Homo sapiens: one gene and its partner. The protein of the gene in region 1 purifies or fractionates together with the protein of each later gene. This does not show direct contact. Each region holds a gene or a part of one and is shown on either strand. Other genes may lie near its edges.

Region 1 (8,179 bases):
AACAGGTGTTGATACAGAAGATCAAACAACTGTGGATGAGAGCCGCCATAAATTCCTGGCCTTCCACTTTTTAAACATTTTTTATTTGTAATTATTGTGGATACCCTGGCCTTCCACTTTAACTGGCCCTCAATGTTGCCTGGCTGTTTTCTCCATTTCATTTCCATATCAACTATTTTCAAACTTTCTTCCCTTTCCCAAATTTTCCAACCTTCTATCCTCTTCTTCACTTGAGGCATGGGCCATCTTCTGCATCAAAAAAATAAACAGTCCATTTGTAAATTTCCTCAACTTCATGTTGGTACAATAATTAAGAATACATGTACCAACAGGGTACCAACCTGCCCACATCTGTCTCCTTCTATTTCTCCTCTATAGATAGAATAGACCTCTCTTTCCACAATGAAACTTTCCACCATTCTACTCTACGTACTCCCTCCCTCCTTCTGAGGAACTCAACACTGCTGTGTCATTGACATTTTCCTCACTGTCTGCTCTTTACCATCCAATCCAAATTTAAACATACTACAGCCATGTTCATCCCCAAATTAAAATCCCTTGACTCTAAGCTCCTTTAGTTCCCACTTTATTCTTTCCCCAGACCACCTCCCAGGGCAGTGGACCCTCTTGTACTTCCTCACCTTCTACTCGCTCCTCAATTCGCTATACTCTGGCTTTTACCAATCACTTTTCTGAAACTGTCCTTGCTGCTCAGTAGTCATTTCAGTCTTTTTTTTTTTTTTGAGACAAGGTCCCCCTATGTTGCCCAGTCTGGCCTTCAACTCCTGGGCTCAAGTGATCCTCCCGCCTCAGCCTCCCAAGTAGCTGGAACTATAGGTGTCAGTCCCTATCTTGTTCTCTTGGCAGCCGTTGTCACTCCTAAGGAGTACCTGCTCCTTCCTCAAGCACCTCTCCCTTGGCTTCTCTGACCTGATGCTCTCATCTTGTCTTGCTGGCTTTCCTGTTTCCTTCACATATTCAGCCACCTCTGCCTACCCTTTAAATGTTGATATTCCGAGGGTTTGCTCCTTGGCCAACTTCTCAATCTTCATTCTCATCTTTCTGACATGCTAAGGACTTCCAAGCCTGTATTTGTAACCCAGATTGTTCTTCTGAATTCTAGACCTTTAATACATACACGTGACACTAGGTATCTCTACTAGGATCTCTCCCGGGACTTCATATTCAAGATGCCAAACTAGTTTCCACCACATGCCCCGTACTTGCTCTACTTTCTTCCTGAAATGCTTTGTCTTCAGATATTGATGTGGTTGGCTCCTTTGTATCATTTGGGTCTCAGTTCCAACGTCACCTTCTCAGATGCTTTCCCTTGACTACCTCCTCTAATTTGCCCTTCACAGCAAGCCACAACCCAGCATCAGTTATCTTAATACAACTACATGAAGTTATTGTACCTACTTATGTCTTCTTTCAGGCTACTAAATGAAAGCTTCCTAAGAACAGAGGCATTGTCCATCTTATTCACTGCTGTATTGCTACAGTACCTGGCATGTAGCACATCACAAAAAATACTTATTGAATGAACAAAACTCCTCAATTTTGAACCTTGGAAAGATTATGCTAAATGAAAGATGCCAGAGACAAAAGAGTATGTATTGTATGATCACACTTACATGAAATGTCCAGAACAGGCAAATCTATAAAGAAGTAGATTAGTGGTTGCTTAGGGCTGGAGAGGTAGTGGGGATTGTCTATGACTGCTAATGAATACAAGGTATCTCTTGGGAGTGATGAAAATGTGCTGGAATTAGAGAGAGGTGATGGTTGTATAACTCTATGTTAAGAACGACTGAATTATACTCTTTAAATGAGTTGTATGGTATGTAAATTGTGAGTTGTATGGTATGTAAACTGTATCTCAATAAAGCTGTTACGAAACAACCAAATTCCCAAATTTACTCCAGAGTTGCCCCATCTCTTATACTCCTTGAGTGAATAACACTACCCTTTCCCAACTGCCAAACTTAGGAATCTGATCATAACATCCTCTCTGCCCTGCCTTCCCTCCCCACAACCACCCTTCCAGATACAGCTGATCAGCCACAAAATCCTGAAGATCTCATTTGCATACTCTCTCACACTCACATCACTCACTACAGGCTCTCGTCAGCTAGACTTAGAATCTTTCAATATCTCACTGAATCTGCTCTACTCAATCCATGCTTTTATTCATCCATGCTTTTATTCATCTGCTACACTGCTGCCAGGAGAGATTTTCCTAAAACATAATTCCCACAATATCCATGCTTGCTTAATAGCCTTCGCTGGCTCCCTGTAATTGACTTGATAAAGGTCCAAACTCCTGTGTATACGAGGTGCTTCCTAAACTGGACCTCAACTGCCTGTCGCTTCATCTGCTAACTCAACTCTTTAGCTACAGCCATGAGGAATCTGGCCACAAGCTGTGACCACTCTCACTTTCATATGTGCCACTTCCACTGCCTAGAACATCCTGGGCCCCCCAGTCTTTAACTCCTACTCATTCTTTAGGACTCAGCTCAGGCATCACATTTTTCAGGATCCACGAGGTATCCTTTTTTCCTCAATCTGTCAGAAATCCCTTTTCCATACTTTCACAGTGCTCAGTGCAATGCCTGCCTGCGTTCTTAGATTAGCTATTATTTACAAAGCACCTACCGCGATGTTCACTCTTCAAGTTTTATCTTATTTCCATATGAGAAAACGGGTTCAGTGAGATTGTTGTCCTACTAATTGGTCAAGTAGATAATGGACTTCAGGTCTGACTTCAAAGTAATAGTCTCCTATTATTCCAAAGTATCTCTCCAATATTTCCCACTGTGCACTGTAATTCTCTCCAAAAGAGCGAGAGCAATTAACTGGGCCCTCTGTTGCGTCTATATCCCCATGTGTGGTGCTTGACACTTGCTCAGTGTTTGCTCATCACAGGAAGACATGACAGGTGTGAACTAAGCAGAAGGAAACGGACTATGTCCCAAGCAGGTGCTCAATGAAGCCTTACTGAATGATTGTGTAAAGGAGATACTTTCTACCTTTTGGAAAGCGTATATTCATGTTGTGCCAACTAGTATCTAACAATAAACATGTTGTGGGTTCGAAATGCTCATCTGTAGGAATTCAAGTTCTCTACATTTGCATCTCCCCTTCAGCAGCATTCCCGACTGATGAGGATCGTGTCCACTGAAAGGCCACTCTCCTTATGGACAGTCGAGGGCTGAGTTTTTGTCCCTAACACCTCTGCACTTTCTCTTCTCCAGCTTTACACCTTCCTTATTCTACTAGGGCCTGAGCTGAGAAGATCGAAACTCACGGCAAGTCCCTAATATTTTCTAACTTCTGGCACATGTGAAGCCCTGGTGTTAAGAAACAGACTTAATTCTTCCCTGCACGGCTGTAGCCTCATTCAGGTCCTCCTCTCATCCTGTCGGTCATAAGCTTCACCGGCTCCCTCACAGCTTGCCCTGACGCGCAGAGATCCGTGCTTGTGCTAAGTGAAAACGCTTCTTAGCGTGTACGAAAGCGAGCGGTGGCCCCGTAAAACTTTTTTTTTTCCGACTCCAACATACCCTCCCCTGAAACTGATGAAAAAGCAAAATCCCGTTCACTCTATAGCAGGCCCCTTCCGATCAACGGTCCTCCAACCCCTCGAGCCTGAGAAGCCTGGCCCGCAAGCGCGGACCAAAGGCAGGCTGCCGGGGTAGGTGGGAGCGCGGGCGACGGAGGAGGCCAGTCTCCGGTTACCCCTCGCGCCCCTCACAGCCCGTGGCTTCATTCCCTCTCTCGCTGGTCCCTTACAGGGGTCGGATCAGCAGCTGGTCGCTCTCCTCAGCAGGAATCGCAGACATCCCGAAAGTGTGAGGGCGAAGCGGGGGTGAGGAACAGGTCGCCGGGGTCTTCCTAAATTGGAAGCACAGCCACCGGTAAATAAAAAAGGAAGAACCCCATTCACCAAGAGCACAACTTCCGTCACTCCGGAGCCCGCGGCACTAGACTCCTCCCCTCGACTTCCGGTCGGGGGACGCCGCTCGCGAGGCTTCCCACCACTTGGGGTCTTGGAACCGGGGGTAGGACGTCAGGACTGCGCCTGCGCATAGTCTTGGAGGCGCGGCCCGGCGGACGTGGGCAGGAGGGCTGGAAAAGCCGGCGCTGGAGCGGGAACGGGAGTAGCTGCCTGGGCGCCAAAGGCCGCGGCACTCCCACGCGGACCCCGAAGTCCGCAACCCGGGGATGGGCCCGCGGCTGCGAGGTGAGCGCCCAGCCCTCGTCCCGCTTGGGGCCGAGCTCGCGGAGGCCTGACGGGAACACGGTCCCGAGAGCGGCGCGGACGGCCAGGAAGGATGGGTGGGGCCGCGGGGCGGGCGGAGGAGGGATGCCTGGGCTCGGGCTTGGTTCCGGGCGGGGCCGCGCTCCCGGGGCGCGGGTGGAGGAGCTTGGAACCACGCAGATCGGGCGTGGGCTTGCGGACTGCAGCTTCCCGAGCCGCTGTCGCCCCGGAGGGGCGGCAAGGCGGGCGGCCGCGGGCCGTTTCCTTGCCTCTTCCTCTGCCCCGCTTCGGCCGCCTCCCGCCTCTCAGGGTCGGGGTTGTCTGTCCCCTTCGCTGTCACATCCTCCGCACCCAGCGCTTGGAAGGTGCTCCATCACGGTGACAGACAGGTGCCAAGCAGGCTGGCGTCTGGGAGGAACTTCGGAGCCGGCTCTCCCTAGGCCCCGAGCTTGGCCGCATCCGTCCTTACTCTGGTGACCCTGGGCAGGTCACTGACTCTTCGGGCGCTTTGGCATCCTCGTTTGAAAGGGGCTGTTATCCTGCAGCCTTGCTGGTCGGTGAGGGTGAGGGTGAGAGGGATCTGTGCACCTAGCACCGTGCATGGCACGTGGTAGGCGTTTGGTACATGGGAATCGCTGTTGGGGTGTCACCTCCCCAGAAAGTTCTCGGCTTCAGTAAGCGCGTCCCCTGCCAGGCGCCCTGGCAATGCAGAGGAGTCACCGAGCTCCGCCTTTGACCAGCGTGCAGCTGGGAGAGTGAGATCAGAGACCACAGCAGATCGTGGCGCTGTGATCAGGGGGTACACTCAAGCTGTGGGTCCCTTACCCCAGCCTTGAGATCCCAGGAAGGCCTGCAGCCTGAAACGGGCCTTGAAAGGTAAGAAGTAGCCAAGTGCCTGACAGGTGAAGGACGTCCCGGGCGGTGCAAAGCAGGGGCGCGTGGAGCATCGCGCTGAGAACCAGGAGCAGCTTTGCCTTGCTGAGATCAATGAACTGTGCCCGGGTTGTGGAGGATGGAAGTGGAAAGGTGATTAGGAGCTGGGTCCTGGAGGACCTGGCGTGTCGTGCTGAAGAACGTTGACTTTGGTCTCTGACTTTGGAGAACCAGTGAAAGATTTTCAGCAGGCTAGTGGCATTAGATTCATGTTTGAAAGAAATCATTTTAATCGTTTTGGCTGCAGTGTGGGGGTAGATTTAAAGTGTTAGGGAATCCAGTAGGACAAGGTCCCTTATCCACGAAATATCCTTGGGTTTGTGAATTCCTTAAATTCATGCCAAACTTTGTATGGATGTGCATTTTTATAGGGTGAGGATCCATCACATTCATCAGTTTCTAAAAAAATAGTGTCTGTGCCCATGGTTTAGGATGACGGGGGCCCTGGTGGAGAGCTGGCTCAGAGAGCTCTTCAGGTGGGGTATACAGTGGGTCTTGGTGCCAGATTGGATGTGGGGCCTGAAGGACAGCAAGGAAATCATGATTTTCTGGCTTCCTCCAGCAATAATAGAATCTCCTGACAGGGAGAGGAGAGGAGAGGAGCAGATCTGGAGGGGAGGATGATGGGTTCAGCTTGAGACATCTTTGCATTTGATGAGCCTGCGGAGCATCCAATCGCCAATCAGGATCATTGGCCTCATTTTGATGCATGAATAATTTTTTTTTTTTTTTTTTGAGACGGAGTCTCGCTCTTTCGTCCAGGCTGGAGTGCAGTGGCGCGATCTCGGCTCACTGCAAGCTCCGCCTCCCGGGTTCACGCCATTCTCCTGCCTCAGGCTCCTGAGTAGCTGGGACTACAGGCGCCCACCACCACGCACAGCCAATTTTTTGTATTTTTAGTAGAGACGGGGTTTCACCATGTTAGCCAGGATGGTCTCGATCTCCTGACCTCGTGATCCGCCCGACTTGGCCTCCCAAAGTGCTGGGATTACAGGCGTGAGCCACCCATGAATAATTTTGAGGCAAGAATGATTTGCTTGAGAACATGCATCAAAATTGCAGCAGATATCAAAGACTTTAATAAATGCTGCTTTTTCCTAAGCCGCTGGGTTGATGATGAAAAGAAAGCCTTAAGGAGTTGCTAAGGCATTGTCGTGTCATGATTTTCATATCAAGGGATTTGAGGAGACACTTCAGGATTCCACTGACAGTAGAATCACATTTTGTTTTTAAAATAAGTTTTGATTTAAAATTCAAATCATATTTAAAATTGTTACCTATATATAAATATGTATTTATATATACTTAAGTATCTGATGTTTAAATATGTTACACATCAACATTTTAACCCGTGAGCGCCATTAACATGGCACTTTATGCTGCTACGTTAACCTAGTTTCGTGCAGGCCTTGGAATAAGGCTCTCCTGCCATCTCTCACTGACAAGTGTCCTGTGCTGGTAAGGTTCCCCTTTGCAGCAATCACCCGCAGTCTTCTTCCAACACATCTCTCACTTTTTACCCTTATCCAGTGGAGTTAGTTCGCTATCTGGCAGCCAGGGTCATCGTTTAAAAAACAGAAGACACCTGATTGTGTCGCTAAACTGCTTTTTAAAAGCCTCCATTCCAGAAGATCACAGCAGATAAGCAAAAAATAAATAAAAAGCCTTCAGAGTATTCCTCTTAAACTAAAGTCCACTGTTACCGCGGCCTGCCTGGCCTTCTGTGGCACTTTGGGCCCATTGCTGTCCTCCTGCTCCCGGACAGCCTTGACTGTTCCCTCGGGCCCCTCTCCACCCGCACGGCATTGCCTCCAGGCTATTTATGGCTGCCCGCACTTCTTTCAGAAAAAGAGCTACAGCATCTTTTTCTGAAATACCCACCCCTTCCTTCCATTAGTCTGTGTCTCCTCAACTTGTGTTAGTTTTCCTCATAGCAGTGGTTTCCTAATAATATGTTTCATGTGTGTTTTTCTTGTTGGTCTGTCTACTCTCGCTAAGAACAGGCTCCCTGAGGTCAGGGGCTCTGTTTGGTTCACTGATGCATCCCCGACACCTGGTAGGTGCTCACTGACTATCCAGGAATGAATGAATAAATCAGATTTTCCTGGTACCCCACAAATAAAGCAAAAATATAGAAGTAAATTGGATGATGAGGCTGATTAAAAAGCTTGGGCTCAGTGGTCAGACTTGGGCAAGTGGCCTAATGTCGTCCCCTAGTAAGTGGACTTAGAGTGGGGTCTCCAAATACGGAGAATCTTTGGGTTGCAGCAGGAGCTTTCACTGACTGCTGCGTGAGTTGCTCGTTCTTTTTCCTTCATCAGGTGCGTAGTTTCTCTGAAAAGCATCACCCAGGTCAGAATGAAAGGAAACTCTCTGTGCAGACCGCTGTATGTGGGACCTTTGAAGACAGTCAAATAGTGTTCAATTCTATAGTAAGCAGATTTTCTTGTTCTCTCTGGAGAATACAGTTTTTGGTAAAAAATTGATCAGGTTATCTTATTCATAAATCGTCTTGAGAGGCAGGTCACAGTTCCCTCATCTGTAAAAGGCAGATTACAGCCCACCTTCTGTGAGCCCCTTGAGGGAGAGCTTAGAGCCCTGCAGAGTGTGTGGCATATGGTATGCCCTTAAAAAGCATCAGTAGAGCAAATGGATATGTCACAAGGTTATCATGAGGCTATGACAGTAGAACTGTCCCGGGAGTTCTGTGAGCTGTGCAGCTTCATGTAGGTTAGTTAATTTGCCAAGTATAGTATATGCTGTCCTTATGCAACTGGCAAGGATGAATCTTAGTTTCCAATGCATTTATTATTATTAATTTCAAAAAAAGAAATATGTAACACAGACTCTGGGAGGCAAGGTCATCTCCTTAACTACGCTTAATAGAGAGGGGAGGTGAGGTGCTGGCACCTGGGAATGTCTTTGTGTCAGCTTTTACTTAAAGGTATTTCAAAACTTCAAGAAAAATGCACATTTCTGAGA
Region 2 (7,965 bases), about 120 Mb from region 1:
CATGTTGGCCAGGCTGGTCTCAAACTCCTGACCTCAAATGATCCACCTGTCTGGGCCTCCCAAAGTGCTGGGATTACAGGCATGAGCCACCGCGCTCTGCTGAAAATGATTTTTCTTTGGTAACATTTATCTCCCCATTTCAAACCATTTACATTAGTCCTAGAGACTGAAGCTCTTCAGTGTATTGGAAAATCTGAGCAGTGCTACTCTCATCTGTCTGGCCCTTAAACATTTTACTAATTTTCTGGTAGTGACTGACTTTCTAAAGTTGTATTGTATCTTGTACTCATGATTTGTGTGCTTATAAATTCCCAGAGCTAGGTAGTATTGGAAAGGGCATGTATGGGTTTCAGCAGCAAATGGACCTAGGTTTGAATGCCAGGCTCACCATTAACTACCTTTTTTATATTGGGTCAGTTAATTAAACTCTCTAAGCTTCAGTTTCTTTGTATATAAGAATGTTAACTATAAAACCTAAAGGTAAAAAGTGCCTCATATATAGTAGGCATTCTTTAAATGTTAACATTTTTTTTCTTTCTGTGATGAATTTAATTGGTGACATCATTTTCAGTTTTAAACATTAACTCAAATATCTTTGTTGAAATTTACTGACAATCTCATTCCTCTGATAAGTTAATCACTCCTTTCTCTGCTATTAAAGCATTTTGTATATATCTTTAATGTATTTTGACTATACCTTCTCCACTACTTGTGAATACTTTGGTTTTTAGTTTGTTTGTTTGTTTTCTGAGACAGGGTCTCACTTTGTCACCCAGGCTGGAATACAGTGGCATGATCATGGCTCACTGTAGCCTCTAATTCCTAGGCTCAAGCGATCCTCCCACTTCAGCCTTTCAAAGTCTTGGGAGTCATGAGTCCCTGCTGCCAGCTCTTTGTGAGCACGTTGAAGACGTGCTATAGTACCTTATATTTTTGTATTCCTAAAACCTAGGCATTATACAAATTGAAGAATGAATTTTCTACAAAAATTCCCCTCATGACTTGGTTTATTTCTGATCTTTGGCTGTTGCTTATTAACTCTTTGCCTAGATTGTATTCTCCTTCCTTTCACACTATTCCTATTCTGTTCAGTCCTTAAAATCCAGCTAAATCCAATTAATGAGGTCTTCAGTGACTCTCATTTATTCATAACTTGTTTAGTTAGTCTAGTGTCTGTGTGACTGCCTTCTGTTACTTTGTGTCCCATTAGTACCTGCCTCTATGCCTTACCATTTTGAGCAGATCCTTGAGTGGGATGATACGTGCAAAACTGTGCTTTAGGCAGTTTGTTGTTATAGGCACCTGCTCTCTACTCTGTTTGCTCTCAACTTAGTAGGTGGAGCAGCAATTTTCCTTTTTTGGTATATGGAATATTCTGGTAACTTTTTTGCAACTTTAAGAAATTTCAAGCCAGGTGCAGTGGCTCACATCTGTAATCCCAGCACTTTGGGAGGCCGAGGCAGGTGGATCACCTGAGGTCAGGAGTTCAAGACCAGCCTGGCCAACATGGTGAAACCCCATCCCTACTAAATACAAAAAAAATTAGCTGGGCGTGGTGGCACATTCCTGTAATCCCAGCTACTTGGGAAGCTGAGGCAAGAGAATTGCTTCAACCTTGGAGGCGGAGGTTGCAGTGAGCTGAGATTGCGCATTGTACTTCAGCCTGGGCAACAAGAGTGAAATGCCGTCTTAAAAAAAAAAATTTCAAACATGCAGCAAAGGTGAAAGAATACTACAGTGAACACCCATATGCCTTCTGTTTGGATTCGACTGTTAACCAACATTTAACCATTTTGCTTTAACTCTATATCCTCCCTTTCTTGAATGATTTGAAATTAAATTGCAGATATACTGCTTTTCCCTGTAATACCTCAGGATGCATGTCTTTGAAATAATGCTTTTTCCTACGCTTTTCTACATTTTTATTTCAAGCCAGTCTCCAGCTGAAAACATATAAAATCATTATCATACCTAAGGCAATTAGCATGAAATCTTTAGCATCATCTTTTTTTTTTTTTCGAATGAGTTGGTGTAGTTCTATTTTTTTTTGGCTTTGTTCCACAGTTGTTGAAGAGTTGGTTTAATTCTAGGTTACACAGAGTTTAGGGTAGAACAAAGACCAAAGAGCAGTCTCTGGCAAGATTCTGGGCTGGTTTTACTTTAAATTCATAGCTAAGGCAGGAATGGAGTGAAAACAACTAAAGAGAGGCCGGGCGCAGTGGCTCACGCCTGTAATCCCAGCACTTGGGAGGCTGAGGTGAGCAGATCACCTGAGGTCAGGAGTTTGAGACCAGCCTGGCCAACATTGTGTAACCTCGTCTCTACTAAAAATACAAAAATTAGCCGGGTGTGGTTGCGCATGCCTGTAGTCCCAGCTACTCGGGAGACTGAGGCATGAGAATCGCTTGAACCCAGGAGGTGGAGGTTGTAGTGAGCTGAAATTGTGCCACTGCACTGCAGCCAGGGCAACAGAGCGAGACTGTCTCAAAAAAAAAAAAAAAAAGAAAAAGAAAAACAACTAAAGAGATGATGAGCCACTGTAAGCATTTTAATTTATTTTATTAATATTTTTTATTTAAAATTTTAAAATTTTGTTTATTTTGAGACAGGGTCTTACTTTGTCATCCAGGTTGGAGTGCAGTGGCACAATCACAGCTCACTGCAGCCTCAACCTCCCAGCTCAAGCAATCTGCCCACCTTGGCCTCACAAAGTGCTAGGATTACAGGTGTGAGCCACCACACCTGCGGTTTTTTTTTTTTTTTTAAACAAAAGTTTATTCTTTAATGTGCAGTAGACTCCAGCTTCAAGACGACACTTCATTCCAGCTATAGGTGGCAACAGATATTATGGCAGGGAATACAGATGTTTAAATACGAATGAAATCAAGGGTCACCATTGCTTCAGGCACAGGGCACAGCTTACTTTCTGCCAGATTTTTAAATTCCACCTGTGGCCGGAGCCCCTTCCAGGAGGCTTTCGCTTTTAGCTCCTTGTGTTTCTTTCGTTCCTTTTCTTGTTTCTGCTTGAAAGCCTTATTCATCTTCTTGGCCTGCTTTTTGGGCAGTTTCAAAGGGTTCTTCTTGCCACCTTTGAGGCCGGACCTGGCACCTGCTGCCCCTTCCTGACTCTGTCACCACAAACAGCTAGCCTCATCTTTTTAAAGAACGTTCCATATTTTGGAATTTCTTATTGTATGCTTAAAATGTCATGTATTTTGTTTCTCAATTCCTGTTGTTTCTCTATTCCTTTTATTTCCTGTAAACTAGAAGTTAGATCTAGAGAGGTTTGACTAAATTTGGGTCAAATATTTTTGGCAAAAATACTTCATAGAGGCCAGGTGCGCTGGCTCATGTCTGTAATCCCAGCACTTTGAGAGGCTGAGGCAGATGGATTGCTAGAGCCCAGGAGTTCAAGACCAGCCTGGACAATTTGGCAAAACCCTGTCTCTATTTTAAAAAAAGAAAAAAAAATGCTGGGTTTGGTGGCCTGCGCCTGTAGTCCCAGCTACTTGGGAGGTTGAGACAGGAGGATGGCTTGAGCCAGAGAGGTGGAGGCTGCAGTGAGCCGACATCCTGCTGCTGTACTCCAGCCTAGGCGACAAGAGAACCCTGTCTCAAAAAAAAAAAAAAAAAAAAAAAAAAAAAGAAAAAACTTCACAGGTGATGATACGTGATTTATGTTGTGAGGATATACTTCTAGCTATGAGCCTTCAATAAGGTGGTAGGGACTGCCAGATGTTAGCTTGCGTTATTTACAATGCCAAATTTACCTGGTTAATGTGTCCATTGGATTTCTTCATCAAAGAGGTATATTTTTCCCTTTGCAGTTATACTTGATCTGTGGGGTGATAACTTTAGCATCATGTGAGTACCTCACTTCTCAAAATATTTTTCACTTAATGATTGATGATTATTAGCTGAGTCATTTATTGGGGGTTTTCTAATTTTGTTATTTGTTTATATTCATTAACTGTTTTCTGTAATAAAGAGCTTTTGCTTTCCCCCTTTCGTGTTTAAATGTTTAAATTTTGAAATAAATATGAACTAACAGAAGAGTTGGAAGAATAGTTCAAAGAACTCCTATGTACTTTTTATTCTGATTCACCCATTTTTAACATTTTGTCACATTTGCTTTATTCCTCCCTTCCTGCCTCCCAGCCCCTCATGTATTATTTTCGGAGCCATTTAGTGTTATTCACAGATATGCACTTCTCCGCACTTCTCTGCTCAAGAACAAGTTAAGTACCCGCAATATTAACTAATTCTGGACATTGAACATTTATATAGTATTGAAAATTCATACTCAAATTTCTCTAGTTGTCTCAGTAACATCTCACAGAATTTTTCTTTCTCTAATCCAGTATCCAATCTAGATATTTCTTTTCTTTTTTTATTTATTTTTTGAGACAGAGTCTCGCTCTGTCTCCCAGGCTGGGATGATCTTGGCTCACTGCAAGCTCCGCCTCCCGGGTTCACGCCATTCTCCTGCCTCAACCTCCCGAGTAGCTGGGACTACAGGCGCCCGCCACCATGCCTGGCTAATTTTTTGTATTTTTAGTAGAGACAGGGTTTCACCGTGTTAGCCAGGATGGTCTCGATCTCCTGACCTTGTGATCCACCCTCCTCGGCCTCCCAAAGTGCTGGGATTACGGGTGTGAGCCACCGCACCCGGTCCCAATCTAGATATTTCGTATCTCTTTAGTCTTTAAGCAGGAGCAGGTATTTGGCCCTTATTGCTTTTGGTCTTTTTTTTTTTTTTTTTTTTTGAGACTGGGTCTCACTTCGTTGCCCAGGCTAGAGTGCAGTGGCAAGATCATAGCTGCCTGCAGCCTGGAACTCCTGGGCTCAAGTGATTCTCCTACCTCAGTCTCCCAAGCACCTGGCACTAACCCCAGTTAATTTGAGGGCTCCTTTGCTTTTTTGGCAAAACAATAACCCAAGTCCTTCTTGTCTTTTCCTTTCCTTTTGTATCTTCCCATTTCTCCAAGGAGTCCCAGTTCTTTTGGTAGAAAATATTATTTATAAACCAGGATTTGGATGCTTGGTGGTGTATGCATTTGCTTGTATGCCCTTTTCAGTGGACAGAGCTAGAAAACATGATATTAAAAATCATCAGCTTACATTGGTATTTTATTTTATTTATTTTTTGAGACAGTCTCCCTCTGTCACCTAGGCTGGAGTGCAGTTGTGCAATCTTGGCTCATTGCAACCTCTGCCTCCTGGGTTGAAGCGATTCTTGTGCCTCAGCCTCCCGAGCAGCTAGGATTACAGGCGTCTGGCTAATTTTTGTATTTTTAGTAGAGATGGGGTTTTACCATATTGGCCAGGCTGGTCTCGAACCCCTGGCCTTAAGTGATCCGCTCACTTTGGCCTCTCAAAGTGTTGGGATTACAGACGTGAGCCACTGTGCCTGGCCTACATTGGTATTTTAAATTCCTAATCAAAGTTAACATTAGTGGCATTTTCTACACAGAAAACAGAGTCAGATTTATAATGCCAGTATTTTACTAACAATAACCCTACCAAGTGCAGTTTTTTTTCCAGTCCTTTTTTTTCTTAGCGTATACTGCATTAAAGATGAACTTTCTTCAAAAGTTACTTGAAATAACATTTTTCAGCTTGTTTGTTGAATTTGTTTATTTTGATTATCAAATTTCACAGTTTTTGTTTGTATTCATTATTAGGGTTTGCTTTTTCTCCCTCTTAATTTAGTTTTTTTGTTTGTTTGTTTTTGAGACAAGATCTCAATCTGTTACCTAGGCTGGAGTGTAGTGGTGCAGTTTTGGCTCCCTGTAGCCTCAACCTCGCAGGTTTGGGTGATCCTCCCACCTCAGCCTCCCAAGTAGCTGGAACGACAAGTGCGCACCACCATGCCTGGCTAATTTTTTGTGTTTTTTGGTATAGTCTGGGTTTTGCCATGTTGCCCAGTCTGGGCTCGAACTCCTGGGGTCATCGGTTCCTCCCTCCTCAGCCTCCCAAAATACTAGGATTACAAGGCATGAGCCACTGCACCCAGACGTAATTTAGTTTTTTTAATACGTTATTTACATGGTTTAAAATCTACTGAAAAAAAATTTTTAAGCACCTGTGACCAAGAAGGAATAAAATTAAATACTATATTGAAAAAGTACTGGCTGGGCGTGGTGGCTCACATCTGTAATCCCAGCACTTTGGGAGGCCGAGGGGGGCAGATCACCTGGGGTCAGGAGTTTGAGACCAGCCTGGCCAACATGGTGAAACCCCATCTCTACTAAAAATACAAAAATTAGCCAGGCGTGGTGGCACATGCCTGTAATCCCAGCTACTCTGAAGGATGAGGCAGGAGAATTGCTTGCACCCAGGAGACGGAGGCTGAAGAAAAAGTAGTTAAGTCTTGCTTCTGTCTCTGAGCTCTGGAGTTCATTCCAGTTTTTACTGTGTATATTCTTATTTTCACATTCTTAGAAGAAAGTTGGCATGCTGTATATGCTTGTGACACTTGATTTTTTTTTTTATAAATTGTGATAAATGCATAGCAAAATTTTACTGTCTTAATTTTTTTTTTTTGAGTCGGAGTCTTGCTCTCTCCTCCAGGCTGGAGTGCAGTGGCGTGATCTCAGCTCACTCCTGGGTTCAAGTGATTCTCCTGCCTCAGCCTCCTGAGTAGCTGGGACTACAGGTGCATGCCACCACACCTGGCTAATTTTTGTATTTTTAGTAGAGACGGGGTTTTACCATGTTGGCCAGGGTGGTCTGGAATTCCTGACCTCAAGTGATCTGCCTGCCTCAGCCTCCCAAAGTGCTGGGATTACAAGCAGGAGCCACTGTGCCTGGCCTTAACCATTTTTTTTGAGATGGAGTCTCACTGTATCACCCAGGCAGGAGTGCAGTGGCACGATCTCGGCTCACTGCAGCATCCGTCTCCTGGGTTCAAACAATTATCCTGCCTCAGTCTCCCGAGTAGCTGGCACTACAGGTGTGCACCACCACGCCCAGCTAATTTTTTGTATTTTTAGTAGAGATGGGATTTCACCATGTTGGCTAGGCTGGTCTTGAACTCCTAACCTCAAGTGATGCACATGCCTCCGCTCCACAAAGTCCTGAGATAGGCATGAACCACTGCACCTGGCTCATAATGTAATTCTGTTTTTAACATTTTTGAAGAACCTCTATACTGTTTTTCATAGTGATTGTACTGTTTTTTTTTTTTTTGTTGTGTGTTTTTTGTTTGTTTGTTTGTTTTTTAGAGACAGAGTCTCACTGTGTTGCTCAGGCTGGTCTTCGCCTCAAAGTGATCCTCCCACCATGGCCTCCCAAAGTGCTAGGATTACAGGTGTGAGCCACCATGCCCAGCCTCATTGTACCATTTTACAGTCAGTACACAATGGTTCCAATTTCTTCATGTTCTTACCAACAGTTATTATTTTCTGTGTCTGTGTGTGTTTTTCCTCTGAGAAAAGGTCTCCTTCTGTTACCCCTGCTGGAGTACAGTGGTATAATCATAGCTCACTGTGCCTCAACGTCCCGGGCTCAAGCAAACCTCCTGCCTTAGCCTCCCGAGCGGCTGGGACAACAGGTGTATGTCACCATGCCTGGCTAATTTTGTTTTTCTTTTCTTTTTTTTTTTTTTCCTAGAGACAGGGTCTCACTATGTTGTCTGTCCTGGCTGGTCTCAAACTCCTGGGCTCCATCTTCCCACTTCGGCTTCCTGAAGTGCTGAGATTACAATAGGCATGAGCCACTATGCCCATCCTAAAGTTTTACAGCCCAATAATAGTAATATTCCATCACTACAGCTATCATTGAGTTTCAGAAGTTAGACTGTTAAAAGTTTCAGTAAAGAGCTTTAACCAGTTTATTGTGGCAATACTGTGTACACAATTATTTTTTGTAAAAGGAAGGAGATTTCTGTCTTAAATAGCTTTAATAAAGTTTCAGTTTCATATACAGGAATAGATTTAAATTAAAACTCAGGGCCAAGTACAG

What was found.
Region 2: the proteins of CPSF3 (region 1) and WDR33 purify together in Homo sapiens (affinity purification with mass spectrometry; 5 studies listed by BioGRID and IntAct, with this or other methods). This does not show direct contact.

Annotation. Positions count from the first base shown.
Region 1 is NC_000002.12:9,419,440-9,427,618, reverse strand, and holds the start of CPSF3 (cleavage and polyadenylation specificity factor subunit 3), read right to left. Parts: upstream 3,966-8,179; 5' UTR 3,846-3,965; coding exon 3,796-3,845; exon of another isoform or gene 3,404-3,795; coding exon of another isoform or gene 3,384-3,403; exon of another isoform or gene 2,659-3,383; intron 1,087-2,658; exon of another isoform or gene 1,059-1,086; coding exon of another isoform or gene 997-1,058; intron 1-996. UniProt on the Homo sapiens protein: Component of the cleavage and polyadenylation specificity factor (CPSF) complex that plays a key role in pre-mRNA 3'-end formation, recognizing the AAUAAA signal sequence and interacting with poly(A) polymerase and other factors to bring about cleavage and poly(A) addition.
Region 2 is NC_000002.12:127,800,749-127,808,713, reverse strand, and holds part of WDR33 (pre-mRNA 3' end processing protein WDR33), read left to right. Parts: intron 1-7,965. UniProt on the Homo sapiens protein: Essential for both cleavage and polyadenylation of pre-mRNA 3' ends.